2 separate regions of the Homo sapiens genome follow, and region 2 is linked to region 1. The links come from fine-mapping of genetic effects on gene expression. A gene starts in region 1. The other region holds a variant in brackets. All regions are shown on one strand. Distances are between the middles of the regions.

The links. PIP is the estimated chance that this variant, and not a neighbour inherited with it, causes the effect.
Region 2: its variant is the best candidate, but not a certain one, in a credible set for the expression of ANXA1 in whole blood (INTERVAL, PIP 0.59).

The regions. Positions count from the first base shown.
Region 1 is chr9:73,144,645-73,161,440 of GRCh38, reverse strand. It overlaps ANXA1 (annexin A1), which reads right to left and starts at 9,576. Exons shown (of 13, transcript NM_000700.3): 1 at 9,517-9,576; 2 at 2,840-2,919; 3 at 2,638-2,746; 4 at 2,018-2,112; 5 at 1,065-1,178; 6 at 548-638. The coding sequence starts at 2,905. RefSeq lists a silencer at 7,294-7,588 and a cis regulatory region at 11,618-11,868.
Region 2 is chr9:73,119,486-73,136,281 of GRCh38, reverse strand. No RefSeq gene overlaps it. Among named protein-coding and RNA genes, the nearest start is that of ANXA1, 24 kb to the left of the region's middle. RefSeq lists an enhancer at 3,491-3,910. The variant A/C (reference allele first, on the strand shown) is at 8,167.

The DNA.
Region 1 (16,796 bases):
AGTCTTTTATTCTGTGAATTTAACTAGAGATAAAGTGAGTCTCTTATGTTCATAACGATAAAGTTAAGGTTTCCAACAGAGAATTATAAGCACCTAATTCTTTACTTTTTCAAGGACAAATGAAAAACATTTTGTTAGGAGATTTTTTTGTTATTATATATTCTTTTCAAAAAAAATGACCTTGGGACATTTTTATAAAATACATTCCAGAATAATAGAAAAGTGTTTTTCAGAAATTTTTAAAAATTCAATGCTCTGAATTGAGGTTTCCATTATAATCGTATGTGGCCATTTATCCTAGAGGAACATTTTCTATTAAAACGCAAGCTTGATGCGGATTGGGACACCATCTCCCTTGTCAGCAACCTAGCAACTCAAGCGTTGCCTGGTAACAGCATTTAATAGACATGTGCCAAACAATAAAGAAACATTTTGATATGTGGAGATTCCAAAGCTGCCATAATTACCATAGACAGTCAATTTTAAGAAAGTATATTAGATTTCCTTTTCAAATAAGGCGTTTGGACTGTTGGACATTACAACTTACCCTCTCTGTAGACCCTGTTAATGTCTCTGATTTCTTTGTTAGTTCTTGATGCCAAAATCTCAATTAGAGTATCTTCATCAGTTCCAAGGCCCTAAATTTGAAGAGAAGAAAAGGATAAATGTAGAAAAAAATCTTCATGCAAGAGGATCAATGAGTTTTTGGTGTTCCAAAATTTGTTTGACTCTGTCATTTAGTAAATTTCACCCACAACATTTAATAATTACAATAAGCTCTATTACATTGCCCTAAAACAAAACAAGTTTATCATCAATATTTTGGGTAAAAATAAAAATGCAAATATATGACTCATATAGTGACATGACATGGAAGGTGTTAGTGCCAACATTTCTGTTTTCATTTATATATTAATTCCTTCATTGAGGTATTAATTTATTTATTCTTCAAACTCCCACTGATTGACAGGTACTATACTAGATTTTGAAAATAACATAAGCATAAGTGACTTGCCCAATACATCCTCTTGAGGAAAGGAGTTTGCTCAAATTGGGCGATTTACCTTCATGGCAGCACGAAGTTCATCAGCATCAAATTGCGCTGGAGTTTTTAGCAGAGCTAAAACAACCTCCTCAAGGTGACCTGTAAGGGCTTTCTTCAGTGTTTCATCCAGGGGCTACAAAAAAAAAGATTAGAATCAGGACTTCCAATAAGTAACATGCTAGGTTAAAAAATGTGATATTACCTGACTTTAGGTCATCGTACAACTCATCCCTAAACCCAACCATCTTTTAGAGCTTCTTCCCTTCACATACAAAGTGTACCAAATATTTTGAAACATTATCTTACCCTTCCAGATCTAGAGGGATTAAAATAAAATTTACTGAATTCATCAATAACTTCTTAAAGCATAGGGTTAGTAATCTTATACACAGGGGAGAAATCACAAAGATCAAAACACAGAGGACTGTGTGCTAACAGAAAACAGAAGTAAAATTACTTTTAAAATAATATATTCATGTTTCCAATCTTTGAGGTTTGTACTTCTCAAATAACAAGCAGTATAATCAGATACTGAAATTATATAGTTTTCTAATTTCATTGCTTTAGAAAACTACTCATATTTGGTATAAAAGACATAAGGCTTATTTTTAAAGTAGAATTATATATAAAATTTAGGCATTAAACAGTTCAGTTTAAATATTAGTACATTTCAATCAGACCATATTCTTTATTGACAGCAGCAATCTCGATGTTTACGTTCAAATTAAAAATTTGTCCCCAGAGCACCACATCTGCAAACAATATACACCAAGATGACTAATGTATAAAAATAGGAAATTTGATAAAATTGATTAAATTGCAACAAAGTGGATAAACACTGCAATCCCAATCATAGATGTAATGAGAAAACAGTGGTTAGAACCTTAAAGAACTAGGTAACTGTGCTTCCGAATCCATGGTTAAGTATAACTATGCTGAAATTAAATATCTAAATTTACCACTCTAACTTACCTTTCCTGTTTCCTGGAGATATGCTGCTTTGATCTGTTGACGCTGTGCATTGTTTCGCTTAGTTAGAATGTCAATGATGGTTGCTTCATCCACACCTGGAAATAAAGGGCCAACAGCCTTTAACACCAATTTTCTTCATCATCAATTGACATAAAATAATTCATTACTGAGATGCTCCAAAAGAACTTCTTAACAAATTAAGAAATATAAATTATATATCAGCCTAAAAAATCGATGCTATACTACATATCAAGGAAGCACTTGGGAGAATGACATTTCATTCGAGTGAGAAAGGAAGAGACAATTAACTTTTCCTGGCCCTCAGTGTTGCAGTGTTTGATACTAGTTGCAACTCTATATGTGAACAGAGCTTTTAATTTCAGCATGGAATTTCTGCTAGAAATGAGCCAGTAATATCTGCTGTAACAATAGAGATTCCACTGATGTGAACACAATTTCCTCAGTGTTAAGTAAATAATTACATCTTCGTTTGGCAAAGAAATGTTTTTATCTTCAAAATGAAACAGATTCTTTCCATTGCACATGTCTGTTTTTTGACAGTCATTCAAATAGCCATTCTGAAATGTCCAGGAGGGAACTGTTTTGAGGAAACACGTTACCTTTAACCATTATGGCCTTATGCAAGGCAGCGACATCCGAGGATGGATTGAAGGTAGGATAGGGGCTCACCGCTGATCCGGGACCACCTTTGGATGACTTCACAGTTTGCTAAGAATGAGAGAGAAATAAATTAATGGCCATTTACTTATATTCGTTTTTATTTCAATATTGTAATCATAATTTTATTATCACTCTACTTACAACATATTCCTGCTCTTCATTTTCAATAAACCAGGCCTGCTTGAGGAATTCTGATACCATTGCCATTTTTGAAAAAGTGTCTGGAAAGAAAACAGTTAGATGCTTTTACAAAACAAATGCACCACACACAACCTCTCCTTCCTCACCTCTTACATACATAAGAGTTAGCATTAGAGAGTAGCCTTGCGCTTACTTTCCAGGATCAATTACACTTAGGAGCATAACAAAATGTAAGACGTAATTTTTTTTAAAGGAAGCTTTTATACTTAAAATGAAACCATACCCTCCTCTCTGAAATTGAACTCTTTCTTGGCATATTCAGTTCTAAATTTTAGAGATCAGACAACTACTACAAGTAAGCACACAGGCTGAAGAGAGGAGTTTGTGGTTCACTACATTGTTCTAAATTTGTAGACCACCCACCATATGCCAAGCACTAAGAGTACAAAAACATTGAAATATCATCTTAAGTACCCTCAGGACTTAAAGCTAGTGTGTGCTCTCCATAGGAAAACATAAGGGCTAAAGAAACTTCTTAGAGTAGGCCCTGGCTGACCCAAGCCTCTCTTGAAATGAGTCAAGATTAACCTGGCAGAAAAGTTAAAGAAGAAGCTTGTCATATTTGGGAAGCAGAAGAAAGTTTGCTGGAGCGAGAAATGTTGGCAGAAGCTGAAACAAGAAGCTTCAATGTGTCCACAAAGCTTTGGGAAAACATTAATGGGTTTCTTTTTGTTTGTTTGTTTTTTTAAAGCAGCATGGTTTCATTTATGTTTCCGAAAGACCATTCATCCTTTATCATGGAGAATGGCTAAGAGATAGACAAGATGGAGGATTAGAATACTATTTAGTAGACCATTAGACCATCTATGTGGAATTAATGAGAGCCTGTACAAAAGTAATGGCTAGATGAAAAGCTTAATGATTGCTTTTTTTTTTTTTTTTTTTTTTGAGATGGAGTCTTTCTCTGTCGCCCAGGCTGGAGTGCAGTGGTGAAATCTCGACTCACTGCAACCTCCGTCTCCTGGGTTCAAGCAATTCTCCTGCCTCAGCCTCCTGAGTAGCTGGGATTACAGGCACCAGCCACCACGCCCGGCTAATTTTTGTATTTTTAGTAGAGACAGGTTTTCACCATGTTGGCTAGGCTGATTTTGAACTCATGACCCCAAGTGATCTGCCCGCCTCGGCCTCCCAAAGTGCTGGAATTACAGGTGTGAGCTACCACTCCCAGCCAATGATTACATTTATAAGGTAAAATAACTTGTGCCAATCTGTACAAGTGAATTCAGATTTAAAATTTTAATTGTAAAAAGATATCCAGGTGATATTTCTCCCTGAATAATTTAGTTTCCTTTTCTATTTCTTGATATAAAAGTACTCAGCATTGAAGTAATTGCTATCTTCACATTTCTTCCTATTTGAGCTGTCTAAATAGTAGTCCTACATATTTTCCCACCCAACACAAAAAACCCAGAAAAGAATTATTTTATACTGGATTTTTTTGTTGTAGCAGGAAGCCTAGAGGTGCAATTGTAACATGCATGTTCTTTTGGCAAACTCTATCTTAAAGGAAATTTCTTGAATTGCTATCATGACTTGGCAATATTTTTATTTAATGAGACATATATTTTTAAGATCTTAAGTATATTGAAAATTAATGTGTTCTCTGTTTTGGCCACACACACACAAAATGCCATCACAGATCCTTTTAGTCTGGGGATGTTTTTCAGAGGCCTTGCTCAAGGTCTACACTGATCTGTCTATCTACACCATTCTGTTTCACCCCTCTAGAGACTACTCTCATGAATGTTTGTGAGAGAGGTTGGGAGGACAATCTTGGCAGTTTTAAATTCTTGATATGAAGATAAATGACTCATGAGGCATAAACTGATTCCATAAACTGATTCCTCAACAGCATGTTCAGACAAACTCTTTCCATTTTCACCTGCTAAAAAGTAACTGGAGTTGCAAGTAATAACACTGAATGCATGAAGAAAATAATATCCAAAGCAGAAATCATCCCCACTTAATTCGCATGGGATTGCTCTTATTACTATTCTGTCATCTGTGAGAAGAACCAATACTTTTTCCATTCATTTAAAGCAGCCTGTTTCCTAAATATAATTGATAGACTTAAAATTGCTTCCTGATAAAGTAACAACCCGCAATTTTGCACAAGGTTTTAGTTCCCATTACAGTCTAGTTTCATGCAATTGCGGTTGCCACATGGAGTTTCATATTCCACCTTCTTAATTGGCACACCCAATACTTTAAAAGCAATTCTAGCAGCTTCAGGCACTCAAAATTTCCATTTTCATCATTTCATCCAAGGCTTTGATAAGGAAGAATCATCAAAATGAGTGTTAAAATTCATCACTTGGCAAAGTACTACTCCATCACTTATAAAAACATGTTTTTATTATTTATTTATTTTATTTATTTATTTATTTATTTATATTATTTATTATTATTATTTATTTATTATTATTATTATTATTATTCCATTCTTTTCAATTAGCAAATAAAAACTTCAAAAGAAAGCAAAAGAAAGACTAAAGATATTGTCCAGTCTAATATTAAAGGTGTCTCTGACAACTTCAAAATAAACGTTATAAAAACTTTACTGTACTGTTTTTTTTTTACTTCTAAAAAATACTTGAATAATGTCCATTTAAAAAAAAAGCCAGAGAAAGCCCAGGAAAAGGTATATTAATTACATAACACAAGATAACAAAAATAAGTTGTTTAAGTCACTTATTTGAAAGAGAGAGCATCCCTAGAGGAGACAGCTTTGTGATTTGTATCTTCTAAGTTCCTACATTCTAGCCTGAAGTATTTGGATAGACTAAAAGCATAATCTAGGAAAGAAAAGCAACCAATAGAGAATTTTCTTCAAGAAATCAATTAGAGAAAAACGGAATCTGAATTCAGCCAAATTCACCACCAGCTCTTAGCAAAGATTAAAGACAGGAGCATCAAGGCAGGATATAAGAAATTGCTCTAAAGGAAACAGATTTTATCACATACAGCTGGTTAAGGGCTCAAAGCCAACTGCACGTATTAACTGAACTTCTGAATAATTATAATACAACTAACAAATACCAAATATATATTTTTTTATATATTGGCCAAATTCTATCCTTAAGCCGTTCTGACTCTTCAATACCTACACTCTGCATGAAAACCTGCCTAAGCCAATGAGTTCATGAAAGGTTTTCTTTTTTCTATCTTTTTGTTTGTAGTGTATAAAGCTTGCAATAGATTTTAAAGAGCCTGTTCTATCAACTTATAGATTTCAACTAACTCAATACAGATTTCAACTAACCAAAGATAAGCTCTAAAACTAAGTTTATTTCAGTACTTAGCATGAGCTCATTGACGGTGAAATTGGCCATTTATACATAGGCAAATCTATAAGGAAATTAACAATATTTCACATTTCTTCTAATTAATGGTCTTTTTGTGAACATGCACTGCCTACTAATGTCAGCTTATCTATGATTTGAATGTATAGCTTTCTAAAGCGTAGCAATTTTTTTGCATATTTATGTGTCCTAAGAGAGTCCCCCCGCTTCATTTTTCCATCTCTCAGCCTCATGAAAGGCTACCTCTATCTAGAATTTGTGACAGAGGAAGCTGAGTTTTGTGGTTGATTGTATCTTCCTGGTTACAATCTAGAACTATCAGAGTTTTGCAATGATAGTAACAGCAATGACTAACCCTTGCTTGGAATAATAGCCTTTAATCATTATCCTCAGTTTCTATCTGGGAAAACTGAGTGCTATTTTCAAGCAGTCTTCCTGCTAGTAGTGGCAAGAATGGAGACATAAATCCATCCCTTTTGATTCCAAAGTGTTATATATTTTGGCTGTGCATGGTGGCTCACACCTGCAATCCCAGCAATTTAGGAGGCCAAGGTGGGCAGATTACTTGAGGCCAGGAGTTCAAGACCAGCCTGGCCAGCATGGCGAAACCCCGTCTCTACCAAAAGTACAAAAATCAGCCAGGCATGGTGGTGTGCACCTGTAGTCCCATCTACTCAGAAGGCTGAGGCAGGAGAATCACTTGAACCCAGGAAGAGGCGGAGGCTGCAGTGAGCCGAGATTGTACCACTACACTCCATCCTGGGCGACATAACAAGACTCTGTCGGGAAGAAAGAAAGAAAAAGAAAAGAAAAGAAAAAAGAAAAGAAAGAGAAGGGAGGGAGGGAATTAGTGACCAAAAAGAAAATGACATGATCAGTGTTCTTTTAATCACTCACACCTGAGAATCAAATTCATTAACAGTCAACTTGCGCAGACCGTAGCAGGTTTCACCCCAGCCTTAGGGAGTTTATTTTTAAATGCACGGCCTTGTGCATAGTTTTTCCTCGAATATGTATTTCACAAGTCCTTCCCACACCTTCCCTGGTGAGAGAAAGCAATTAAGACTACACAATGGCATGACTTACAGAAAGCAATTTATGAAAGGTAGCCTCACTAATGTTTTGCTTCCAGGCTTTTCGATAGGGTGTTCTTCTTGCCTGGAATGCTTGTTCCTCCTCCACATTCACTTCCCTTTGCCTAACTAATTGCTACTTCTAAGTGACTCATCAGCATTGATCTCATCACGTTCTTCAGAAACCCTTCATTAGTTCCTCAGCACTGGATTCGGTGACCTTCCATGCTCTCCCAAAGCATCCTGACTTCACCCCTACACCAGCCCCACCTTTCTGTATTATCACTTTCCATTGGCTTGTTTATATTCCCCAGGAGCAGGCCATGAGGCCCGTGCTAACATACAAATAATAATATTCATTATGTATGTACTTCCAATCCCTAGCAAAATGCCTGGAATTTAGGATGTTAATAAGTATTATTGAATGAATATCATGTATCATTGCTAATATTTTAAAAAACATATCTACACTAATTTAATGAACATTTTCTACCCACAACTATAGGATATAAAATACAAATTGAAGTATACTGGTTCTTGATTATCTGGCGATCTGACCTCAAGAAAAACATTTAGCTTCTCCAGAGGGTCTTCGTTTATAAAATAAGAATGTTGAAGTAATTATCATCTAAGATCCATTTACAGCTCTGAAGTGCCAATCTTAAATATTACTTCAAGTAGATGAAGATGAAGAAAATTAGCATAATGAAGGAAGGCATTATATAAATTGGATTGTTCTGAGCTTCCTGATGAAATTCTGTCCAATTTTAAAGGAAAAGGAAATAGTTGACTTCAAAAAACTGTTTATAGTTTATCATTGAAAAATAATAGGTCTGCTGGTTTACCTCTGATTTGAAATGTCGTAAATTAATAGGTCTAGAGAGAGCTAACGTCATATTCAGAAATCAACCTTTGCAGACCTTCTGGTTGAAAAAGTATTTAATAAGCATGAAACTCTGGCTGGTTCCTTAATAATATTATTATTAACTATTTTGTCAACATCTGTTAAATGTTGGCTATGTGCTGGATGTGGTTGAGCCTGGAGCTAGGGTGTTACTGTCACTTTTGGGGAAGAGGCCATTTCAGAATTATGAAACCAACATTTTACCACATTTGAGTCATTTGCAATGTGCATTCTCTTACAGCTACCAAAATACTCCTGTGGAAAGAGGGCAACATTGCTTTCTCAAAGTTTTTACAATCTTTTAGATATAACCAAGGCAAGAAAAATTCCATCCTTGTTAATTAGCTAGCAGTGAACATAAGAAATCAGAACATTTAATAAATATTTAAAATGAACGAACAGAAAAATTCTTGAAGGAACATGTTTAAGAAAAAAATAGCCAGATACATGATTTGTAATCTCACTTTTACAAATATATCCAACACTAGTAAATACTCTTCTTTAGTTTTGCTTTGTGCTTTTCTAAGGAGTTTTATGGCCATTAGCTCATGCAACAATCAAGTGGAATAGCTGTTGGAGGGCCTCACTGACATTCCCCTAGGATAATGTATCTGACACTACCCAGAAAGTATTTCCCTTCTTTTTAGGTTTTCCAGCCAGCACTTGAAAAGACTGTATATGACACAGAGCCTACAAGAAAAGGAATGTGGCCACACCCTCTTTAAATGAAAAAAGTAATAAGCGGACCTTCTTATTTTAAATAGCATAAGCAAATATAACATATATTTTTAAATGTTTATTACAAAGAGCATGATTAGCACTTTGAGGTCTGAATCTATCTTGTTTTCCTTACAAAAGAAGAAAATAAATTATGAAAGTCCTACTATTTTGAAACAGTTCCCTGCAGCCCACTCCTATCACTTTTGTTCTTGCCCCCAAAAAGCAGCCCCCATCACGATTTCTCTGTAAAACACACAGCTCTTGGGAAGAAATATTTCAAGGGGAAGGAAAGGAAAAACACATTCTTTTAAGGCTACCAGAGGGAAAGCACATTCTTCCCTTCTTTCTCATGGTAACTTACCAAGAGTACAATGAGCCAGTATTAAGCAAACTTATCTTATTTTTACTTGTATTTGTTAACTAAGTAGAACAAAAATATTGTAATTTGTGATTCCTAAAATATAAATATCCAATGTAATTCTACAGAAAGATTTATGAATGACTTATCATGTTAAATGCAACTAACCATAAATCCTGTAGAAGCAGTAACATTTAACATAGTGATGAGAAAAGTTTTCAAAACAACCAAAACTAACTAAAAGGAAAACCAAGACTTACCTTTATCTCTACCTTCTTGCAAAGAACTAAAGAGAAATTCTTCTCTGAAGATTTCACACTGGCAGTGGAGACTTGGGCTTCTGATTTTATAGGATTTTAAAGGAAGCCACACCTAGCAACCAGAAGTTAGTAATTGGCTGCCTTCTGTTTGAAGTACATGGCTCAGCTATGTCCAAAAACAAAGTGAAACAAGTCTTGCAAAACTACTCACTAAACCAATTCAACTGGCATTACAAAGGAAAAGAAATGGAAGGGCTGATTTTTCCTCCCTCTTTATTTTGCACTTTTATTTCCAGATGGGATATTTATTTTGCACTTTTATTTTCAGAGTATACATCTGCCCCAATCCTAATACCAGTGATTGGCACACTTTTGTAGTTAAATAGGTTGTAGACTAAAAAGTATGTTACCTTCAAAACTAAACAAACCAACAAACAAAATATTACATTTGAATTCCACCTCCATCACTTATTATTCTGTGACTTTAGGGACATACTTAATTTTTCTGAACCTGTTTTTACTTTTGTTTTGTTGTCTTTTTCCCCCGCTTTTTGTGGAGAATGGGGTCTCGTTATATTGCCCAGGCAGGTCTCAAACTCCTGGGCTCAGGCTATCCTCCTGCCTCTGTCTCCCTAAGAGTTGGAATCACAGGCGTGAGCCACCATGCCTAGCTGTTTTTACTTTTGTATATAGGAGCATTATCTAAGTTGTCTACCCACTAGAATTCTTGTGACAATGGAGAAATAACATATATTTGTAAATTTTAACATTACACAGTGCCGAATAATTTTCTATTTATATTTTTCTTGCCTTAAAAAATAAACGACTTTTGTTCCTAGATATAGCTTGTTGTTATAAATAAGAAATATAGAAGTAATAAAGTTCCAGATTGGCTCAAAATTTTGAACAAAGGTAATGCCAAAAATTTGATCATTATGACATTCAATAAAAGCATTGACATCAGAAGGCCTATCTACATTAATTCTTTTAAATAGAGTCAGTTACATAGAACTATATATATAAACTGTAATATAGATCAGTTATATATACATTTTGATACACATCTTTGACATTGTAGACTAGTTGAACACCAAAACAAGGAACTAGACCTATAAAATGAAAGGATTAATGGAGCAGCAACTATTACAGAACACATTCCATAAGAAATTTCCCACCCAATGGAGGAAAATTGGTTCTGGTAACTTCCATAGTGGTTCATTTTCATTCTTCTTTAAACCCTACAAAGTATTATATGATGTTTCCATTAAAGTGCACAGGTGTAAAATCTCACAGCATTATGGCTCAATTTATGCTGCATTTAGTGGTTTGTTCTTTTTCCTCTTTTCCTCATAGATATTTCACATAAAAAACATGAAGTTTAGGAAGTTAATGAAAATACTTTCTAAAGATTGGCAGTATTTTATAATACATTCTAAGTGCTCGATGCCAATATCAATGAAGTCAACATATCCTGAAGTAGGATGATCATCTAATCTAAATATTTAAGAAAATGTCAATATATGTTTTTACTATCATATGTGTAAGTTGAAAATTAATTAGTTACCTGCTAACAAGTTAAGTTAATTGATATTATTGCAAATTGATCTTGACAGATGTAGACTAACTTTCTAATACCATATTTATGTCATCAGGTGAGAAGGAATAAGATGATTATACAAAATCTGGTTTTCTTTTTTTCTTTAATTTGCGTTTGTATTCCTAACTCTGGTAATGGAACTATTGGAACATTCCTGCACAGTGATGCTCTTGTGAAATGAAGAAAAAATTCCACTTACTTTTTATAAAATATAACAACCTAGAAAACATGTATAGTCTCATTTTGCTTTGTTGCTGCTATTACCAGTGCCATAAACTGAATGGAATTATTTTATATGTTTGGATTTGTAATACATAGGCAAACCTAAAATAGCAACAATAAATATGATAATTGTAGCAGAATTAAGAAAAAAAAAGTGAAAAGAATGTTTTTCCAAAATTAACTTCCAGCTGTAACACTAAAGGCAAGTGAAACTCCCAAACATAACACAAAAAGAAAGCCACTAATCATGTAGGTATATTGCTGTGAATAATCTGTCAGAATCTTTTTCTCCGCATAATAATAATGTCGAGTAGATTTATGGAAATAAAAGAACAAGTAAAATATGTTATCATTAACAGTGAGGGGATAATCATGGGTTAAATGCTTTCTGTGGGTGAAATGCCACATACTCCAGAGAAATGACTCACCACTCTTGCTGTTTCTAGAAGATGATGATTCATCGGCTCCACTTACTTTACAAACAGAGAAAATAAAGAAAGAGAAGGAAAGAAAAAAGACAGTTAAAATCAATCTCTATATGTTACGTTTTTCACAGCATGTTTATTTTCACTCATTTGGTTTAGAATCTGATAGTGAAGAGGAAACAAAACAAAACAAGGAGAGGAAATATGGAGTCTCTCACATACATCTCATTGTGCATAAGACTCTTGCAAAATATCTGATCTTAGTAAGCTGTCCCCTCATCCTTTACATTTAACTCTATCTAAGCATTACTTGTTATATGGAAGAAAGAGTATATTCTGAATGATCAAGAACAGCATTTCACAGATATTCCAAAATCTCCCCACAGCTTCCTCATACCCCCTATCCACAGCCAACAAAAATCATTATTTTAGTGTGTGTTTCTCATGTGTCCCCAGGTCAAAGCATTTTGAGGGCTAACATTCTAAATGTTTTCCCTTTGCCTCTAAACATGGCAAATAATTATCACACACACACTGAGTTATTGAGATTATTATTATTATTATTCCTCAGTTATTCACATGAATTAAAGACAGAATTTTTTTTCAAATTTTACTCTTTCAGGTTAATGAAGTAGTCATGTGGGTAGCTAGAGCCAAAGGGAGGTACCTTTGTTGGACTTCACTTAGGGAAAAAGATCTTACCTCCCTGCCTCTCTATATTTCCTTTTGTGGGTGGAAAATCTTAGAGAAGATAAAAACTCAAATTTGGTGGTGGCTTAGTATCTATTACTGTGTGACTTAGGAAAAGTCAGCGAATGACTTGGTGATTCAACTAGTATACTTCCAACATCAGGATCATGCTAGGATTAGTAATTTTGTATTGCACAAGTTATTTTGTTTAATCCCTGAGTATAGTATCCATATCCCTCTCTATATTATTCGAAAGTAAGAGAATAAGACCTTGTCACATTCGCTATAATAACAAATTTTACTTCAATAATTTTCAAGAAGTTTTGCAGAAGGAAAATGAAGATATGTGTTAAGGTCAAAAGGTCAAACTCTGCTTTCTAGGTTCCAGCTGTTTTAAAATAGTCTGGCAGTTTCTTACAAAGATAAACAGAGTCTTACAATGCAATCCAGCAATTGTGCTCCTAGATATTTACCCAAATGAGTTAGGAAACATGTTTACACAAAAACCTGCACATGTATGCTTATAGCAGTTTATTCATAATTACCAGAAATTGGAAGCAGCTGAGATATTTTTCAAGAGGTAAGTGAATACATGGACTATAGTACGTTTATGTAATGGACTATTACTCAATGATAAAAAGAAATGCTTTTAAACCAGGAAAAGAAATGAAGGAATCATAAATGAGTATCGCTAAGTAAAGGAAGACAGTATGAAAAGGCTATGTCTGTTTCATTCCAATGAGATGCATTCTGGAGAAGGCAAACTATAGAGAAAGTAAAAAGATCAATGGTTGCCAGGAGTTGGTGGCAGGGAGGAGTAATAAATAAGAGACTTTTAGGGAAGTGGGCTGGGCATGGTGGCTCACACCTGTAATCCCAGCACTTTGGGAGGCCGAGGCGGCGGATCATCAGGTCAGGAGTTCAAGACCAGCCTGACCAACATGATGAAACCCCATCTACTAAAATACAAAAAAAAATTAGCTGGGCGTGGTGGTGCACGCCTGTGGTCCCAGCTACTCAGAAGGCTGAGGCAGGAGAATCACTTGAACCTGGGAAGCAGAGGTTAAAGTGAGCCAAGATTGCCCCATTGTATTCCAGCCTAGGCAACAGAGCGAGACTATGTCTCAAAAAAAAAAAAAAAAAAAAGAGATTTTTAGGGAAGTGAAACTATTCTGTATGATACTGTAATGGTGTATGCATACATTATGGATTTGGCAAAACACATAGAAATGTATAACATGAAGAGTAGGCCCTAATGTAAACTATGGCAATTAGCTAATAATAATGTATCAATATTGGTTCACCAATATAACAAATGGACCACATCAATCCAAAATATTAGTAACAGGGGAAACTAAGAGCAGCGGGAAATTGAGTATATGAGAATTCTCTGTACTTTCTGCTCAATTTTTCTGTAAACCTAAAATTTCTCTAAAAACTAGAGTCTATTATGAAAAAAAGGAACTTCATTTGATTATATACTTTCTAAGATATACCAGGACCATATAATTTCTAATATAATAATTCAAAAATTCTTATGTAATCAGAACACAAAAAATACAGCAAGTCTTCACATAATCATTGCCAACTCCATGGATTTATGACACGAACCAAAGATTAATATCCTTAAATTTAATAATGACTTTTTTTCAATTTCTATTTTAACTCAATAGGTTTAAAAAGTGATTTAAAACAATTCTTTAAACTAGCATAGTTAAACAAAAACTGGATCTTTATACTATCTTAAAAAATAAAAAAACATGGATCTGGATGGATCTGGAATTAAAATGGGAGTAAATATATAAAACAAACAATAAACTTTACAAGATATTCTGTAAATATCTTGTAGCTAAATTTGTAATGAAAGTTTTCCAGACCAAGCCACAATAAATGTTTGCTTTGCATTGGTTGGGGTGATTTTGGTTAACTTTATCATAAATAGATTATTATCCAATAGAAAAATGAAATTTTCTTTCAAAGAGAAACTTGATAAATCCTAAATCTCATTTTCTCATTTACAAGTCAAATATGGTTATACTTTGTTAAAAGTAACTTGCAAAAGATCACTATTCAGGATAATCTATTCTGAGAATAACATTTATAATCTCTGTGGTGGGAGACTAATCTGTGGCTTAAAACCTGTTATTATAAAAGAAATGAGAGGTGTTTTTAATATAGGCAAATAAAAATCCTCAAGTGGAAAAAATAAGCAAAATCAGTAGATTCTTACAAAAACTTCATATTTCCTTACATGCACTAACAAAGTGTTACTATCTACAGTGTACCAGGAGCTCTTATCAATTGTAAAGCAAGCAATCCAAACAACAAAAATGGATGAAACCTGAGTACAGTCAAATGCCTCCGAGTCAGCAGATATGCAAATCCAAATTGCCAAACAAACAGTAAAAGTTGTTCAAATTTACACTGGTGAGGGAAATACTGTTTAAAGAAATGACAGTATATGGATATATACCCATCAGGGTGGTGATGACCTCAAATTTTCTGTAACACCTTTACCAGCAATAAATGGTATTAGAAAAGGATACACTCATATATTGCTGGTGCTTGTTTGCTTGTTGGTTTGAAAGTCATTTGGCAGCAACTATTAAAATAAAAAACACACAGAATAAGATAATTAAGAGGGGCAGAAAGCAAGCCAAGATAATGTAATCCTGATGACGCAACTGCAGGTGAAAGTGTCAGGAAGAAAGCTGTGAAAAACATTGCAAAAGGATACAAAATGGTCACTTAGAAAGAGGCTCCAAAAGGAAGTCATTTAGAAATGGCTCTTGTACTTGGAAATTAAGAAAGAGGTGGTGGCCTTAAGGATAAGGGGTTTTGGAAACACAGTGGAGAGAAATTGGTTTGAGAAGACCATAGGAGCTGAGGATATGGAGTTAAGTGTAGGCAACTCTTAGACATACACGCTTTCACTAAATGGTGGAAAACCGAAAGAGAGTAACAAGATATTAATTGTGAGGTAGCATTGGGAAATCTGAACGTGTTCTCAGGTAGACCATGAGGAGCTATAGAAGAAGAGTGAAGCCACAGGAAACAAACAAACTAACAAAAAACAGCATAGTTGATGAAATAAGCTTCCAGAATATTTGGGAGAACAGGTGAACCAGTACAAGGAAAGAGTTACTAGCCTTTGAGATGAGGGCCATTCCTTGCACTGAGGATCTCCTCATATCTTCCTTTCCTGGTTGAAGATTTAATAGGAAGAAAGAGATGAACCCCTAGTCCTCTAGTGGGACAAATACAGTAATGCTGAGGGGCAGAGACTAAGAAACAGCACTGACAAGAATTTTCGAAGGGAAGATGATGTGAAGACATAGGGAGAAGACAGCCATCCACAGCCAAGGAGAGAGGCCTGGGGCAGATATTTCCCGCATGGCCTCAAAAGGAACCAACACTGCTAACTCCCTGATAATGGACTTGTAGCTTCCAGAACTGTGAGGAAATAAATTTCTGTTAATTAAGCCACCCGATCTGTGTAGAGTTGGGTCTACACACTCGTGTAGACTTAAGGGAGGCAATGGATGGGCCAGAATGTCTCTTTCATGAAGCAGCAGTGCACCTACAAATCTAAAGATCACCAAAAAGTCCCTTGATGTGCACCTCCAAGAACATGCAGAATTGGTTACAGTTGAAGTGAAAAGACACCTATTTTGCACTAACCATAGTTTAAAGGTAACAATGCTTAAATTTTGCAACAACACATCTTTTTTTTTCTACATGCATAATGATAGCAAGGGATATAAGACAAATTTTAATAACCAAATAATTTAAAATAAAATGTCTTGCAATGTCGTAATTGTACAGAAATATTAGAAGTGACACTTGTGTAGCTAGTTAGTATACAAAAATCATCCTCTTAACTTTTCAAGTATTTGTATTTTTTATATATCTATACAATTATGGAAGGCCACAAAACTGCCATAAAAAAGGGTAAAAATATAACATAAGAAGGGGGATAACCTGCACACTTTACATAACTATGATCATCTTTAAGCTCAAAGCCAAACATGCAAATTCTAACATTTTCCCTAAATCTGATACATAACCAGGAGTCCTTTGGAGAGACTAAAAATAAGCAAAATGTGAAAAAGAAACAATTCTAAATTCCACATGTAATAGCCAGATTCAGAAGAACTCCAAGAAATTTAAATTCAGCTAATGGGTTTACAGTGGTCAATCCAGAGAATTAAAGATTCTTAGGCTCCATCAAAAACTCCTTTTCCTATTTGAAACTGTATCCTGTTGCCTGGTTAAGGTTTGGCATTTTTAAAGAGGCTGTGGCAGGTGCTTATAATATGCACATTGTAGTTTTATTTCCATCTGGG
Region 2 (16,796 bases), 25 kb after region 1:
ATCATAGTTCACCACAAGCACATGTTACCCACACCAGGCATATGTTTAGTTTTTTATAGAGAAGAGATCTTGTTATGTGGCTCACGTGGGTCTTGAACTCCTAGGCTCAGATGATCCTTCCCCCTTGTCCTCCCAAAGTACTGGGATTCCAAGTGTGAGCCACCACACTTGGCCCATTGTACATATTTCAAACTGAAGCCCAGTGAATTTTGGATTTAGCTAAAGCCAGTGATTGCTAAATAAAGACGTTGCCACTTGAATCTAGATCTTTTACCTTCTTTGAGTGAAGGGTTCTTTATGCCAGATCATGATGCCCAGCTTGCCTTTGACATTTGGAGGCATAAAATTATCCAAAATTCTACCTGGAAGGCAAAATTTTGGATTTATAATAAAATCAAATAGAGGCCAAAATATGAGGACTTCAGTGTCTATGAACCCATATACAGCTACATTTTAGTGCTGAAAAATCACCCATGAACTCCTATATGTATAATCCCATAGAACTACAAGTATCCCCTTTGTTTCTCCATTTTGGGAGTGTGTGAGAACCTCAGAACTACACTTTTGCTTCTAACTACTACATCATTACTCAGTTTCCTGTATAATTCTTGAAAAACCAGCTATTCTGGAGTTAGCACTCATAGTGTGTTCATACTTTTCAAATTTTTTTCCTTTTCAAAACTTTTATTCTTCTCAGTAATTTTTCATACCTGACAGTTGAGACAAAGCTAAGTGATGAAATAATGAGACAGTTCAACTTACTCATTGTCTTTATAATGAAATGAATGCAATGCAAAGGCATTGTGTGTGCCTGGTTTTTGTCCATTTATGATCTTTTCTCAGGGTTGATTATTCTTGAACTCTTTTTCATAATTTTCTTTAATATAGTCTCTGAAATTCTTTCAGTTCTTGAATTAGCTTTTATCCTTCAGTTCTTATGTTTAAACCTTTTTTTCATTATTTCTTAGCCTCTATTCACTAGAAGTCATTGACTATAAATAAATGCTTAGATTCCAATTTTTTAAAAGTACTTTGGAAAAATAAATAAGCTGATTCTCTAGGCAACTTATTTTGTATTTCAAACAAATTTACACTCCTTAGAAAATTGCCAGATGTAAGTTATATTGATTACAGAAAATGTAATACAAAATGCTTTTTTCTATCTTCAAAACAAACCAAGCAGAAAAATATTAAAGCATGAATTAAGTCAACTGGATAGATATTAAGACTTACTCTGATCTCACACGTTTTAGAAAGTAATCAAATTCAATACACTTCTAAATACTCTGCCATTCTGTGTCTAAAATGTATTTAAATAATTGTTGACACTATTGGTTGAAATTCACGTCTTATTTATCTTTCTAGAAATTTAAAAAATTTTATAACATAAAATACTTTGCTTACATCAATGATATGAATGTACAATTTAGAGAAAATATGAAAAATTATATTGTAAAAACACTGCTAATTGTGAAGATCAAAACATAATTTATTTGATTTTCAGCTTTCTTAGGCTAATAATCATACATTTCAAATAATTCTTCAAGATGAGAGCTCCCAGAGAAAAAAGAAACTTTATATTTTCTACAGATCTGGACTTAAAAAATGAAATAAATTATTTTTAAAAATAACAACGACAACAAAACCCTAGGAAACACTGTATTTCTTCTTCAGGAAATAAATTTGAGAAATTAAAAAACAACAAATCTAACAAAAATAGTTCATCACTTTCAAATAAGAGGCGATTTGGAAACTTCTAATGGGCCACGGACAGGTTTCTTTTCCTGTGTGCTGAATTTATATTTTAGCACAATTTCAATAAAAAGAGCAACACAATTAAGAAATGTTCCAGGAAATACCTCTTGCCATTTGACACAATACATGGCTGATTCTAGGATGCATGACTCCTCTCTGAAAGCATGGAGGGGACATATGTGGAAACACAGAGAGTATCAATCTGAGAGTACTTTTTGAAAGAATCCCGATTGTGAACCATTACCTCAGGTGTCATAAACACCCAAGGCTGCTTTGTTGAGCAAGAGGTGGAATATCTTCTGGGTACAGAAGCTGGGGCTTGGCTTGCTACAACTGGCTCATCAGGGTGGGGCCATAATAGTCAACCAAGGAAAACACTACGTCACATGGAAAATGCAAACATCAAGCCAGTTGTTGGCCAGAGTTCTGAACATCTTACTGAGAAAGAAATGTCCTGGCTCACTGTGGTGTGTACAGTGTGAATGAAAATGTTCAGCAAGGGAGCTAATTTGCATTGGCACTATGTCAGTTTCATATATTGGGGACAGAATTTTAAATATAGAGGCTACTCTATTCCTTTACTGGTTTGTTTACAGGATTAGGTATACAAAAGAATTCATTCATCCAGTAACTTTACCTGAGTTTGTGTAATGAAACCTTGAATCATCAAGTTTTTTTAAAATTAAACTTAACAAAACTTTCATTGAAAATGAAAATTAAGGCCAGGCGCAGTGGCTCACACCTGTAATCCCAGCATTTAGGGAGGCCAAGGTCACAAGTTTGAGACTAGCCTGGCAACATGGTGAAACCCTGTCTCTACTAAAAGTACAAAAATTAGCTGGGCGTGGTGGCAGGTGCCTGTAATACCAGCTACTCAGAAGGCTGAGGCAGAAGAATCACTTGAACCCAGGAGGTGGAGGTTGCTATGAGTTGAGACCGCACCAATGCACTCCAGAGCCTGGGCGACAGAACAAGGCTCTGTCACAAAAAAAAAAAAAAAAAAAAAAAAAAAACCAAAAAAAACCCAAAAAAAACTAAAAGTAGTAAAAAAAAACAAAAAAAAAACTTTAACAAAAATAAACCTTATAATTCAATTTTACAGAATCAATCATTACAAAGTAAATCTATAGGTTACAGAATAAAACAATGGCATTAGGTGACAATTTGAAGCTAGAATTGATGAAACTGCTGCCAGTGAGTACCCATCTATTTCACCGTGTCATTTTCCTACACTTCTGTACCCTTGAAGTGAAGATAAACTGTTAATTTACACTGTCAGGGTGAGGGATGCCCCCTCTGAAGACATTAGCTGTCAATTTAGGAACAAAAGGAGAGGCAGATTTGGGTTGTTTTATTTATTTATTTATTTATTTATTTATTTTTATGACTCAGCTTCCAAGTTTAACTCTTCCCTTTTGGCATAGTGAATTTGGGGTCCTGAGCTTTTCTTTTCCTTTCACAACAGTAAGGAAAAATTTTTTAAAGATAAAAGTGTGTCCTGAAATCAGACAAGTTTAGGTTTTCTTTTGGAAATGATTCTTTCACCATTTTTCATGTTTTATGATGAAAGTGAAGTTATTTTGGAAAAGAAATACATTATTTTTTGTATTCTTTGAAGTTCTCTGAACGTGTTTCTATATTTTTAAAGGCACCTGATCAAATTTCTCTAAGAGTTTGGCCCATAAGGAAAACAGATTAGTAGAAACCTTATGAAGCTGAAGGAAAACAAGTGAATTATTTATTATTCCACTTTTTCTAATTTCGTTGTATGTTCAGAACCACCACAATGCTTATCGTGTTATTATCAGAAGACTATACGTCATAAAACAGAAATGAAAGGACCGTTCTTATGAAAAACACTGAAGAAAGAGAAGAGGGACGTTAGAAAACATTGCCAAAGATGTGGGAGGGCCAGAAATATTACAAATACTAAAAACGGATGAGGAGAGAAGGTAACAGCATGGGCTTCTGCAGCTGTAGCGTTTAATGCTGGAAACTCCAGGCGCTCCGAAGCCCCACGGCTGAGCCTGTCTCAGCATGTTTCTCTTTTGAGTCTGTGTGCTGGCAAGGCATTTCCTCGGCTGGTTGCTATAGAAATAATTATACTACACAACTTTGAGAAGCAGAAGCAGACGGAAGTTACAGCAGAAACACTGTCATCTTGGTGTTGTTCTAATAGCCTTAGGATTCGAAAATGAGGCAAAATTAAAAACAAAAAGCACCATTATTTAAATTGAAAATTTAGAAATGTGGGTTATTGTTCAAGTATTCAAAGTCAGCACTACAGAACAGTTAAGTGAGTGTTCTTACACCGAAGTCCTCAGAGCCACTTGGCAAATGCTAGAGAAAACAGGAAGTAAGGACCTCTGTCAAGCAGAAGAATGTCTGATTTTAATCAGGAAATTGAGGATAAGTTTATTTTTGAAGGGATGATATCATCCGGTGAATGGCCTCTTTTGTTTGTAGTATATGCTGGAATGTCACCACCTTGGGAAAAAGTATTCAAAAATTCATAGCCTTTTTTTTTTACTAACACCATATTCACTTTGATTCTTTCTTTTAAATTTTATTTCTTGTGAGATTTATCAACTATGTGTGATTGCATATGCATATTTGTATGTGCAGATATAGACATATAGATATGTCTTTCAATTTTCTCTGTTCTCTTCCGTCTATTTTTTGATCTTTCTCGTTCCCGGTACCACAGTATCTTAATTTCTAAAGTTTTGTAATGAATTTTGATGTCTGAAAGGGCAATCCCAACATCCTTTTCTTCATGTCGCCAAGAAGCTAACAATTTTCCATTAGGAAACAGCCAGCCACATTTCCCAGTTTTGGCATGGTAACATACTGAAGACTCCTGTGATAGTAATTGTAGCTTTTTAGTCATTACAAAGTAAAAGATGACAGAGTTAAGAAAGGACTTAAACTGCAAGACCATTCATTAGTTCTACAATGGGTATCAATTTTCATTTGACTCATCTGATGTTGACTACTTAGAATTCCAGCTTTTAAACAAAAGCTAAGTTTAATCTGTCTATCTACCCAAGTTAATCATTCTGTATTAAGTATTCCTGTCTATTTTAGTTTATCTCAAGGATTTCAAATAATTCAACCAATTAACAATCTAGGATAAAGGGATAACTATAATAATATTTGCATTTTGAGAATCAATAATAATTGATTCTCGAAGGTCTACTTCAAGTTTAATAAATGGAATAAATTAAATATATCAAATGGACAATTCCAAAAAACTTTTATTTACATAAAAATTTTAACAACCATTCAAAACTGAATATAGTAAATGTTAAATGAACAAGATAGCTGTTTGGAGAACGTGATTTCTACTAAGAGATAGAGGTCATCGAGAAAGGTTACTGTAAGCCTTAAAACATGAAATAGCACTCACATAGAGAAGGTGCCAAAGGGTATTCCAGAGACGAGAAGCATCATTACCCAAGATAAAGAGACTAGAATATGCATAGTGGACTCCCTGGTTGTAATTCAAATTATAAGTGGATTATTTTTAAAATGTATACAACTGTATGCACAGAAATCTCTGCTGTGTATGCTTGTGGCATTGCAGCTTCCTTCTGTGGGTCTGAGAATTGGTGCAGGTTTTTAAACTGGGTCAAGAAGTAATATTCCGTGGGCATTGATGACATGAGGCTTCCAATTGCTCATCCAGTTTTAATCATCCTTGATTATGTATAGCCAACCACGCTCTTGTTGTCTATCCATCTATTTTTTCTCGATAAACACCTTGGGATATCAGCCATCACCATAGATCTCTAGTGGTTGACTATATTGCACTTGACCCCTGATATTCTGGAATATAATCATTTCCATTGACACTAGGGAGCCCAGTTCTCTAACAGTATTGCCTACTGTCAACTTCGGTCCAGCTATCACTAAGCTTCTCAAATATGCCAATCCCTCCATCAATAGCACATTCCTTATCAGCTTTGTGATGAGAATGTTCTCTGGCCCTTCAATGAACATAATCAGCTGGTAGTCTCTCTGGTGTTACACAATAGAATCATTCTAGCATGCTCACTTCTCTGAGCCTTTTGAGCCCTTCCTCAAAACTCTGCTAAAGCAGTTCTGTCATCTCTGCTTAATTTAATGTGAGCCTTTTTCTTCCCCCTACAGAACTTTTAGTAACCATCCAAGCAGCGTATTAGAACCATTCCCAGGTGCTCTTGTTAGGGAGTTTTCAGTCATGGAAGAATGTTCCCTTGTTGACAAATGTTCCTTTATCAAGCTTCTCTCTCACTATCCCCAGCTCTCACCCCAATCCAGCGCTATCAAGATATACTTCCTGGCATGCTGTCCTGATTCCTTTTGCTGCAAATTAATCACGTCTTGATGTTCTTTTGGAGAGTAATTTTTTCCCTTCCCTGGTTGGCCCATGCTGAGACTTAGATACAGAACTAGAAGACAGGAGAGAAAGTGAAGTCAGATCTTGATAAGGACAAATATCATCGTCAAAGGCATCCATCTCGGTTGAGGTTTTGGTGTGGCCTTCAAGCAAGAGAAAGCTGCTATGTTCCAGCAAAACTAAATAAGCCACTCTTATATGCCCAGGGGTTCAAAGGAATCTGCGAGTTCTATAATTTTGAGCACATCCACCTACAATTCTCTGCACCATCTCTATCAGGGTTCTGACTTAGCATAAAACCTTGCCAAGGCTATTAACTCATCTTTTGTTGTATTTCTACTACTTTTATAGTAAAGTTTATCATCCAGTCTTCCTTTCAATCTGTCTTCTAGCTATAGAAAGCATGGGTTTCTTTAAATGCTGCCCTGGAGTCCTCCAATCTTTCATACCATGCCCCTGGTTAGTAACGGACAAACCTGAGCTTGTCAATTTTCTTCTTCGGCACAATGACACTTAGCAACAACCAACCAATTTCCAAATCTTATAATTAATAAATCCCCCCATAGCTCTGAAATGCATGTGTAGTCTCCTTTCATCTGTATCCCATGCCAACTCACCACTGGCAAAAGTTATGCAATGACAGTGCTAGAGTTTTCAGTTTTTAACAGTTTAATCTCCAACAGTGTGATCCAGTTGTTATCCAGATGGCAAGTGATCTAACTCAGAATCCCTTCCTAAGTGTATGCTTCCTAGGACCACTTCTGAAATAACCTATTTTCAAGTTGCGTTTCTTCATTAGTTTCCTAGGGTTGCTATAAGAAAGTACCACAAACTTGCTGGCATATAACAACAGAAATTTAGTCTCTCACACTTCTGGAGGATAGAAGTTCCAAATTAAGGTCTCGGTAGGGTTGATTTCCTCTGGGTGCTCCAAACGAAATTATGTCCTGTGCTTCTCTCCTGCCTTCTGGTGGTTTGCTGGCAATCTTTGCCATTGCTTGGCTTATAGATGCACCATTCCAATATTTACATCTGGTTTCACATGGCACTCTCCTTTTTGTGTCCTTGTGGTCAGATAACATTCTCCCTGAGTGTCTCTATCTCTGTGTCCAAGTTTCCCTCTTCTTATAATGGCACCATTCATATTGGATTTAGGGCCCACTCTAACATAGTGTCATTATCTCACCCTACCTTAATTACATCTACAATGATTGCATTTCCAAATAAGGTCATATTTACAGGTTAGGACCTTAAGATATATTTTTAAAGGACACAATTCAACCCATAACAGCATTCGAAAGACAAATCTTATGATGAAAATTTGTGTGTAACTTATGTATTAGAGTATATTCCCAAGAAATTACAGAGAAATGGGAATAATAACAGAAGAAGACCAATAAAGGATGCATTATCAAGCAATTTCCAATGAAGTACATCTTTTGTTCAAGCCTGCCATGCATTTCTGGGCACAGTATAGATCTCAACTCTGAATTGGTCAATAGAGGTAAAGTCTTACCTGTGCACCTACCAGTCATTGATTTAGAGCTATGACTGAGGGAATGTAAATTTCCAGGCATATTTAGTTCCCTTTTGTGCAGATAAAGTGGTTGTGACAGCCTGAATTGCAGGTCCCTCACCCAGATTCATAAGTTAAGGTCCTAACCCACAGTACATCAGAATGTGACTTGTTTTGGAGATAGGGCCTTTAAAGAGAAATGGCCTCTCTCCTTGCCATACCACGTGAGAGAGTTTTCTCAGAAAAACCAAACCTGCTGATGCTTTAATCTTACATTTCTGGCTTCTGGACCTTGAGAAAATAAATGTTTATTGTTTAAGACACCCAGTCTTAAAGACACCCCTAGCAAACTAATACAGCAGCCACTGATAATCACAGGGTGCTGTCTCATGGGACTGAGAGCACACTGAGGCAGCTATGAATGTAGTGAAAGAGCCATCAGAGGGAAGAGCACCCATGGTGTCTTCTCTGGCCCTAAGCCTTCATTGCCAGGAAACCATTTGCAGAACACCTG[A/C]TTTCTGTCCTCACAATTTTAGCTTTTGCTCCATTAGACATCCTGTTTTTTCCAGAAAAGGAACCTGAAATTGCCACTCATACTTGGTCAATGTAGGCTGCTCTAAAAAGTTTACCCAGGATAGCTTTTATATAATAGAGTATCAACTATGGACCCGGGAAGATCATTTGGATACATCTTGACGTTTCTCCACCTGCTGATAAAAGTGAATGAGTAAATACAGCAGCTGTAGTAGGATGAGGGCAGGGTACCAAGAGCACAGTTCCTTCAAGGCTGAGGAAATGTGTCCCCCACAGAATGATCAATTTAGACCACCAGGTACAACATTAACCGAGGATAAGGAAAGTCTAGGATACTGGAAGAATAAAAAGAACACTTAGTTGATTGATTACTATTAAAGCCTCTGCTTAGTTTAATATATATTAAATTCTGTTTTCTTAACTGCACACACAGGGATTTCCATCACAGTCCTAAAAAACAAAATGCATAGCCAACTTTGAGAATTGTTGTCTATATGTAAGAAAAAAATGCAGTAAACAATCACACAAGTGGCAGAACCTCTTTGCTTCCATAAAGGACTAATAATAAGACCCATATTTTAGTCTACTTTGTTAAATCTGATTGTACATAATTTTATATTTCCAAATCTAATTAATATAATGACTCATTGAATGACATTCTACCATATAGTAAAATGTTAAAGTTGATCTTACTTTTTTCGCTCCTCATCTCTATTGTTTGTATGATTTTTTTTTTTTTTTTTTTGAGACGGCATCTTGCTCCGTCACACATGCTGGAGTGCAGAGGCACGACCTTGGCTCACTGCAACCTCCGCCTGCTGGGTTCAAGCAATTCTCCTGCCTCAGCCTCCCGAGTAGCTGGGATTACAGGTGCATGCCACCACGCCTGGCTAATTTTTGTATTTTTAGTACAGACTGGGTTTCATCATGTTGGCCAGGCTGGTCTCGAACTCCTGACCTCGTGATCCACCTGCCTTGACCTCCCAAAGTGCTGGGATTACAGGCGTGAGCCACTGTATCCGGCCTGTTTGTATGGTTGTTATCTTTACCTGGGATTATAATTTTACATATTCATTGCCTGCAAAAGATATTTACTATGAATCTTTAACTCCAAAATTAATATACCTAACATCTTTCTTATTATCTAAAAAAATTACAAGAATGATGATCCAGCTTTCAAACTTTTAAGAACAAAACATAGAGATGCAGTTCTTAATAGAAAGAGATACAAAATGGTAAATGTGGTATAGTATTTTTTATTCAAATTAGGAATATTTTATATAAATATATACAAAAATTAGGTGATTATATTTTTATTCTGTCAAATATAAGAATTGATGTGAAATCATTTAGTACTATTTTTAATAATAGAAATTGAAAATGTTGCATGTTACTTTATAAGTGACATGAGAAATTAATGTAAAAGGGGCTTTGGGTTATCTTCAAGAATGAATTTATGTGGGGACATTGTTTATACCCATACAATAGAAAATATCCCAAACACAATTCAACTTTTAATAGAATAATCTTCAACACCTTTCCGGAGCTAAAATAAACTTTTAAATAAATATTGCATGGACATTATATTTTGTATGGGAAACTATTTTTATGTTAGTTTCACAAATGCTTTATTCACAACCAGTGTGAATTAACTTTTAAATCTACAAATTAAAACATCAAAATCTCATGTTATAATACAATAAAGAGACAATTTTATTCCCAGGAAACAAAACTGAGTTAGTATTTAAATCCTAGAAACTAAATATAGACAAAAATATTAACTTTCCAATTCAGCCAATCTCCAATTAACACATATAGGAAAAAGAGTGGGGGGAAGCGGAGGGAGAGCATTAGGACAAATATCTAATGCATGCAGGGCTTAAAAACTAGATGATGGGTTGATAGGTGCAGCAAACCACCATGGCATACGTATACCTATGTAACGAACCTGCACGTTCAGCACATGTATCCTAGAAATTAAAGTAAAATTTTTTTAAAAATCTTAAAACACAATAACTTCATGCTTACAGAACATAGGCTTATTGTGAGGAAAAAAACCCAAAAGTCCATAACTGTTACAAAGTTGGACAAGGTGTGAACTGAAAAGGCAAACATTTGGTGAGCACACAAATCAGCATATATTCTAATATTGTAATATTATCTCATTTAAACCTGTTCTTACTCATGTGTGTGTCATCCTAGTTTTCTCTGACTTACAGCACCTCACCCTTATTCCTCATCCATCCAAGTCTCTGAGTGTCTCCAGAGAAGCTGCAGTATTCAGTGGCTGAGAATAGTGATTCAGAGGTCATACTACTTGCCTTCATTTATCTATGCAACCATATTGATTTAGCCAGGAAATGTTTTAGGTACTGAAAATATAGGAGTGAAAAACAGTCCATACACAGTTAATCCTTGAACAGCATGGGTTTGAACTGCATACGGCCACTTAATACATTAATTTTTTTTCAGTAAAAGTTACATCAAGTGTGCCTGCCTCTCCTGCCTCCCCTTCTACCTGTCTACCTCTTTCTCTGCCACCCCTGAGACAGCAACACTAACCCTTCTTGTTCCTTCTCCTCCTTAGTCTACTCAACCTAAGGATGAGAAGGATGAAGGCCTTTATGATGCTGCACTTCCATTGAGAAGAAATATGTCTTCTCTTCCTTATGATTTTCTTAATAACATTTTTTCTAGCTTACTTTATTGTAAAAATTCAGTATATATACATATAACATACAAACATGTGTCAATCAACAGTTTATGTTATTGGAAAGGCTTCCAGTTAACAGCAGGCTATTTAGCAGTTAGGTTTTTGGAGAGTTAAAAGTTCTACTCAGATTTCTGACTATACAAAGGGTTGGCACTCCGAACCCACATGCTGTTCAAGGGTCAACTGTACCTGTCTTCATTAAGGTGGTTTTTTTATGGTGTAATATACATAAATAAATTGAAAGATCCATAAATAAGTAAATAATTATCTTAAATTTCTGAATCTTTTACTTACTGTACAACCTTGAGTATGCTATTTAGCTAACTAATCTTCAGAATATTTTTTAACCTGTAAAATTGAGATGCTAATATTGAATACAGTTAAGTATATAATATGAATATATATTTGTGAGTGTGTGTGTGTGTGTGTGTGTGTGTATATATATATATAGTCTTTATCCATTTTATGTTGCTGTAATAGAATACCCACAAACCAGGTAATTTATAATGAACAGAATTTGTTTGGTTCATAGTTCTGGAGGCTGGAAAGTCAAGAGCAAGGTGCCAGGATCTGGTGAGGGCTCTCATGCTGCATCATCCCATGGTGGAAGGCGGAAGTGCAAGAGAGCATGAGAGCAAGCAAGAGAGAACCAAACTGGCTTTTATAAATTCCCACTGTTGCAATAATGAGCCCACTCCTGCAATAACGACATTAATTCATTCATGGGGTGGAGCCATCCTGACTTAATCACCTCATAACAGTTCTACCTCTTAATACTGTCACAATGGCAATTAAATGGCAACATGAGTTTCAGAAGAGGCATTCAAATCATTGCCATACACACACACATACACACACACACACTATATATATATATACGTATATATACATATATGTGTGTATATATACGTATATATACATATATGTGTGTATATATACGCATATATACATATATGTGTGTATATATACGCATATATACATATGTGTGTATATATACGCATATATACATATGTGTGTGTATATACGCATATATACATATGTGTGTGTATATACGCATATATACATATGTGTGTGTATATACGCATATATACATATGTGTGTGTGTATATACGTATATATACATATGTGTGTGTATATACGTATATATACATATGTGTGTATATATACGTATATATACATATATGTGTGTATATACGTATATATACGTATATATACATATATGTGTGTATATGTATATATACGTATATATACATATATGTGTGTATATGTATATATACGTATATATACATATATGTGTGTATATGTATATACATATATGTGTGTATATGTATACACATATATGTGTGTATATATATGTATATACACATATGTGTGTGTATATATATGTATATACACATATGTGTGTGTATATATATGTATATACACATATGTGTGTGTATATATGTGTATATACACATATATAGTGTGTATATATGTGTATATACACATGTGTGTGTATATATATGTGTATATACACATATATAGTGTGTATATATGTGTATATACACATATATATGTATGTATATATGTGTATATACACATATATGTGTGTATATATGTGTATATATACATATATATGTGTGTATATATACATATATATGTGTGTATATATATTCTTTCTTGAGATTAAAAATTAGCTTTTATTGAAAAGTAATAATAAATAACAATCAGACTGAGCCAGGAGCCTTAGATAGATATAAATCAAACTTATAAAACTAAACACATACTTCACTCAGGTTTTGTCCTACAAATTGCCTTGGTTGCCATGATGAAATAGAAATAAAATTAGAACATTTCTTGTCCTTTATCATAAATTAAAGATTCTTTCTCCATCTTTTTTGACCTCCAATGTAAAAAGATAATAAAGACTCTCTGATGCACCAAATCATGTTGCCAAAGAGGCCATTATTTTGTATTAACTCTAAAACCTAGAAATCATTGTTTTTTTTAAAAAAGTATTGAAATCTTAATAGTCTGCTGTATGAAATAATGTTAGTTCATATAGTTTACCATTTATTAACGGCAGCTTATGAATAAGTTCAGAGTTCTTTTTTTCTTTTATCTTATTTGATCTTCCAACTAATCTGTAGCCTCTTGTATGAGGGAAAGCAGTTCACACAGGAGCAGCTCATCTTATGAAAGTGTAAAAGGCAGTCTTTGGCTGTTTCCTGACTGTAAACAAAATGCAAAGCTTTATTTCTTTCATATTACCTCATAAGCTTGTTCTGTAGTTAAAATGAGATAATCCATACAGAATTCTCTGCACAGTGCCTAGCATAGAGTAAATGCTCAATAAATGCTGATAACTGATCCCTCTCTATCTCATCTCTCCCTCTATTCTCACTGAGCTTATCATCATTTAGAATATCACTGCTTTTGCTTTGTTATATTTGCAATAGCCTTCTGTTAGGGTTTCCCTTCTCTAATGTTACCTTTCCCCTCTTCCCTATAATTATGTGTTGTCACCAGATTAAATTGTCCTCATGAATAATTCTGAATTATCCAGGTTTCTGATCAAATACCTTTAATGAGTTCACACCGTAATTATTGAAGAATACCACTGTCTAGATGCACTGTCCCTTTCTAATTCAGTTCCTTCTGTTATGCTTTGTAATAACTATTGTATTCCAGATAAAACAACTTGTTCGTTGTTCTTTTAAGTGTCTCAAAATTTATATTCTATGAGAAATGCCCCCACTTACTATTTCACCCCCAACAGAAACAGATGGACACACCAGTCCTCCAAATGTCTTCTTGTAATCTCCTACCTGAAAAGATTTTTTTCTCTTTTCTTATCTTTATTATTACTTTTCTCATAGCCCTTTCTATGTAAAAGGACTTTTTACATCCTAGTTTCTAGCATTGTTCCATGTGTACATGGTGTATTTCTCTTAGGAGAGTCTACTGTCCTGGAAGGAAAAATCTGTATCTGATTCGTATTTTTATTCCTAAAGTGTCCACATTAAATCAATATTTGTTGACTAAATGCAGGAATTAATTTTTCAAATTCTTCAGAAACATTAGAAGTTTCAACACCAAATACAAAAATAAATTACTACAAAACTGTTTTTTTTAACCAGGTAGATGTGACTTAATTTTTGATATGATTGCTGGAAAACAAGGCGATTAACCCTGTTCCAAAATATCTCCCAACCCCTTGTATTCCCCCAGTAGAAAGCCACTAGCAGTTGATATTCCTAGTCTTCCTGATGATAGCTTTATCACGTCTGATTTAAGAGACATGCACTTGCTTGTTTGCTATATTATAGAACACAAAACAGACAATAAATAGTAAAATGACACTGAAGGTGGATGTAGAGTTGTGAAAAAGACACACTTTGCCTACATAGAGCTTTTGAAATAGATGTCTCTGGTTTAATATTTTGCAGCAATTTAATTTCTCAGTAGGATGTGTCATAATCTATGTAACCTGAAGCAGACTGCCAGGAAGTTTCAAGAACCTGTCAGGTGGCAGAATCAGAGGGCACAGCTGACTAGCAATAATCTGAGGGGATACAAAGGCAGGTATGAGTCTATTTGAAGCTGGGAATGTTACAACCAGGAAAGAGAAGATGGAGCTAGAACAATTCATATTCCCTTACTTATGCAAATTCAGAAGCCACTGTTGAGTCAAACCAGGCATGAACAGTCACCCACTACCTTGAAAAAAATTCCGGAGAAGTTAAGGAAACAATTATGTTAAGTAAGGAAGAGAGAGTCACTAAAGCAAACTCAAAAGGGAAACAACCCAAGTCAAAGCAGGAGAAATATTGGTGGTTGCAAAGTAGCAAAAGAAACAAATATACAGGGTCCATATGACCTTGTGTTAGACACTGTATTGCTCCATCCCATTTGTATTCTTTTTTATTTTACACATAAAGGCCATCAGCATACCTTTATAAATTCTTAGAATTATGACATATAATTTAAGTTGCCCAAATACCTCAGATCAGATTGATATGAGACAATTGGGAAATTGATTAAGTAGTATATTATTTTTATTGCTAAGTCATGACAGCAACCACCACTTGACTGGTAGAAAGTAATGCCCATGAAAGTGCATGGTCACTTAAAAAGCATCTCATATGTACTCGAAGTCAGTTTTCGGCTACAATAAGGATATGGGGCCTGTAGCCAGTACTGTGCTAGAGTGGCTTCCTAGCAGCTCAGCAGATCCAGTTGTGCACATTTCTTCCCAAATCCCCAAATCCAAGCTCAGTGATTGTTGGTAACTTGAAATTGGCTGTGGTAGAAAACATGACAAGCTAGGGCTTTTCCCTAACCTTGGTGAGGGGTTGTTAAATATTACCAACATGCCACTATGTCTGTCCTGGTGTTTCTTTCCACCAGGTCTCATTTGTGGTTTAATTCTACTATTCATGAAGACCTTTGAGAAAGCCTTACCATTGCCACTCATCATCATGAGTTCAATAGTTGTGCCAATAGTATTGTTTCCAGATGCTTTCGTAGCTTCCAGTCTTGGAGTTGCCAAAATATTCCTGGATTCCATGCAGAGATAGGGAAAACAGTTTACCTCAACTCCTCATTTTTACACGTGGGCTCTGAAATCTCTTTATATTCATCCCCTGGTTTCTCACTGTATCTTACTGACTTCTCCATGTTGTCTCAAAATGAATCCAATGAACCATGTAAGAGATAGACATTATTCCAACTTTGATTTGTTTTACTACTTAAGGTCCTCCTGCCAACCTCCAAAATATGTTTCTTCTTCCCCAAGAAAGCATTCACATATATCAGTAAATGAAAACAATGTCGAATGTATGAGCCTATGGGTAAACAAGAAGAGAAGAAATGCTGTCTGATAAGAGGGGCGCATGGAGTCCAGCTTAGCCAAAAATCAACCATGCCATTTAACTGTTTTAATTGTATAATTTGCTAGATGTTTCTGTTTTTCCTCCTTTCTCAAATTGACTCTACACAATTTTTTACCCTGCTGTGTATTCTGGAGAATTGATATTTAGGGGCTACCTTGATGGCTTCCTTTCTCTCTAACCTCCTGTTGAGTTTGGCCAAAGGAAGGCACAAGCAGGAGATTTGGAGATTTTAGTTGAATGGCCTTCTCCATATAGCTGCTCTCTCTGGGCTATGATAACTGTTCTTTCCCTGGTCTTTCCGGCCTGTGGTTAGTAATAGCTCCTTGCTAGCACTAGTCCTTGGACACAGTACTGTTCTTCATTGTTTTTGGAAAAACCCCATCCCATACCTTTAAGAAATTCTCTCTATAGAAATCTCATCAATTATCCTGTTTCAGTATGTCATTCCTTATTCTGTTGGAATCCTGGATGATACTTCAATTAACCTAAGTCATAGCCCATGAAGCTCAATATTCTTTTCACTAAAGGTATTTCTATTTAGTATATTTATGAATCATACTTATGGTGCTTCAACTATGAAAAAAATTTTAAAATCATTCTGCCAAAGAAGGCTGTTTATTTGACCCTAAATATTGTACATCTACCCTACCTGCAATTTCATTAGATCTTTTCAGAGTGTTTCAATTTTTTTTTTTTTTTCTTGAGATGGAACCTCGCTCTGTCGCCGAGGCTGGAGTGCAGTGGCGCGATCTTGGCTCACCGCCAGCTCCATCTCCTGGGTTCACGCCATTCTCCTGCCTCAGCCTCCCGAGTAGCTGGGACTACAGGCGACCGCCACCACGCCTGGCTAATTTTGTTGTATTTTTAGTAGAGACGGGGTTTCACCGTGTTAGCCAGGATGGTCTTTCTAAATGAATAACTCCTCTTGAAGTAAGTATTTGAAGAGAAAATCAAGGATAACGGAGGAACATGGAGCACATTGAATCTTGTAATACATATAACACATTGGTTTGACATATATTG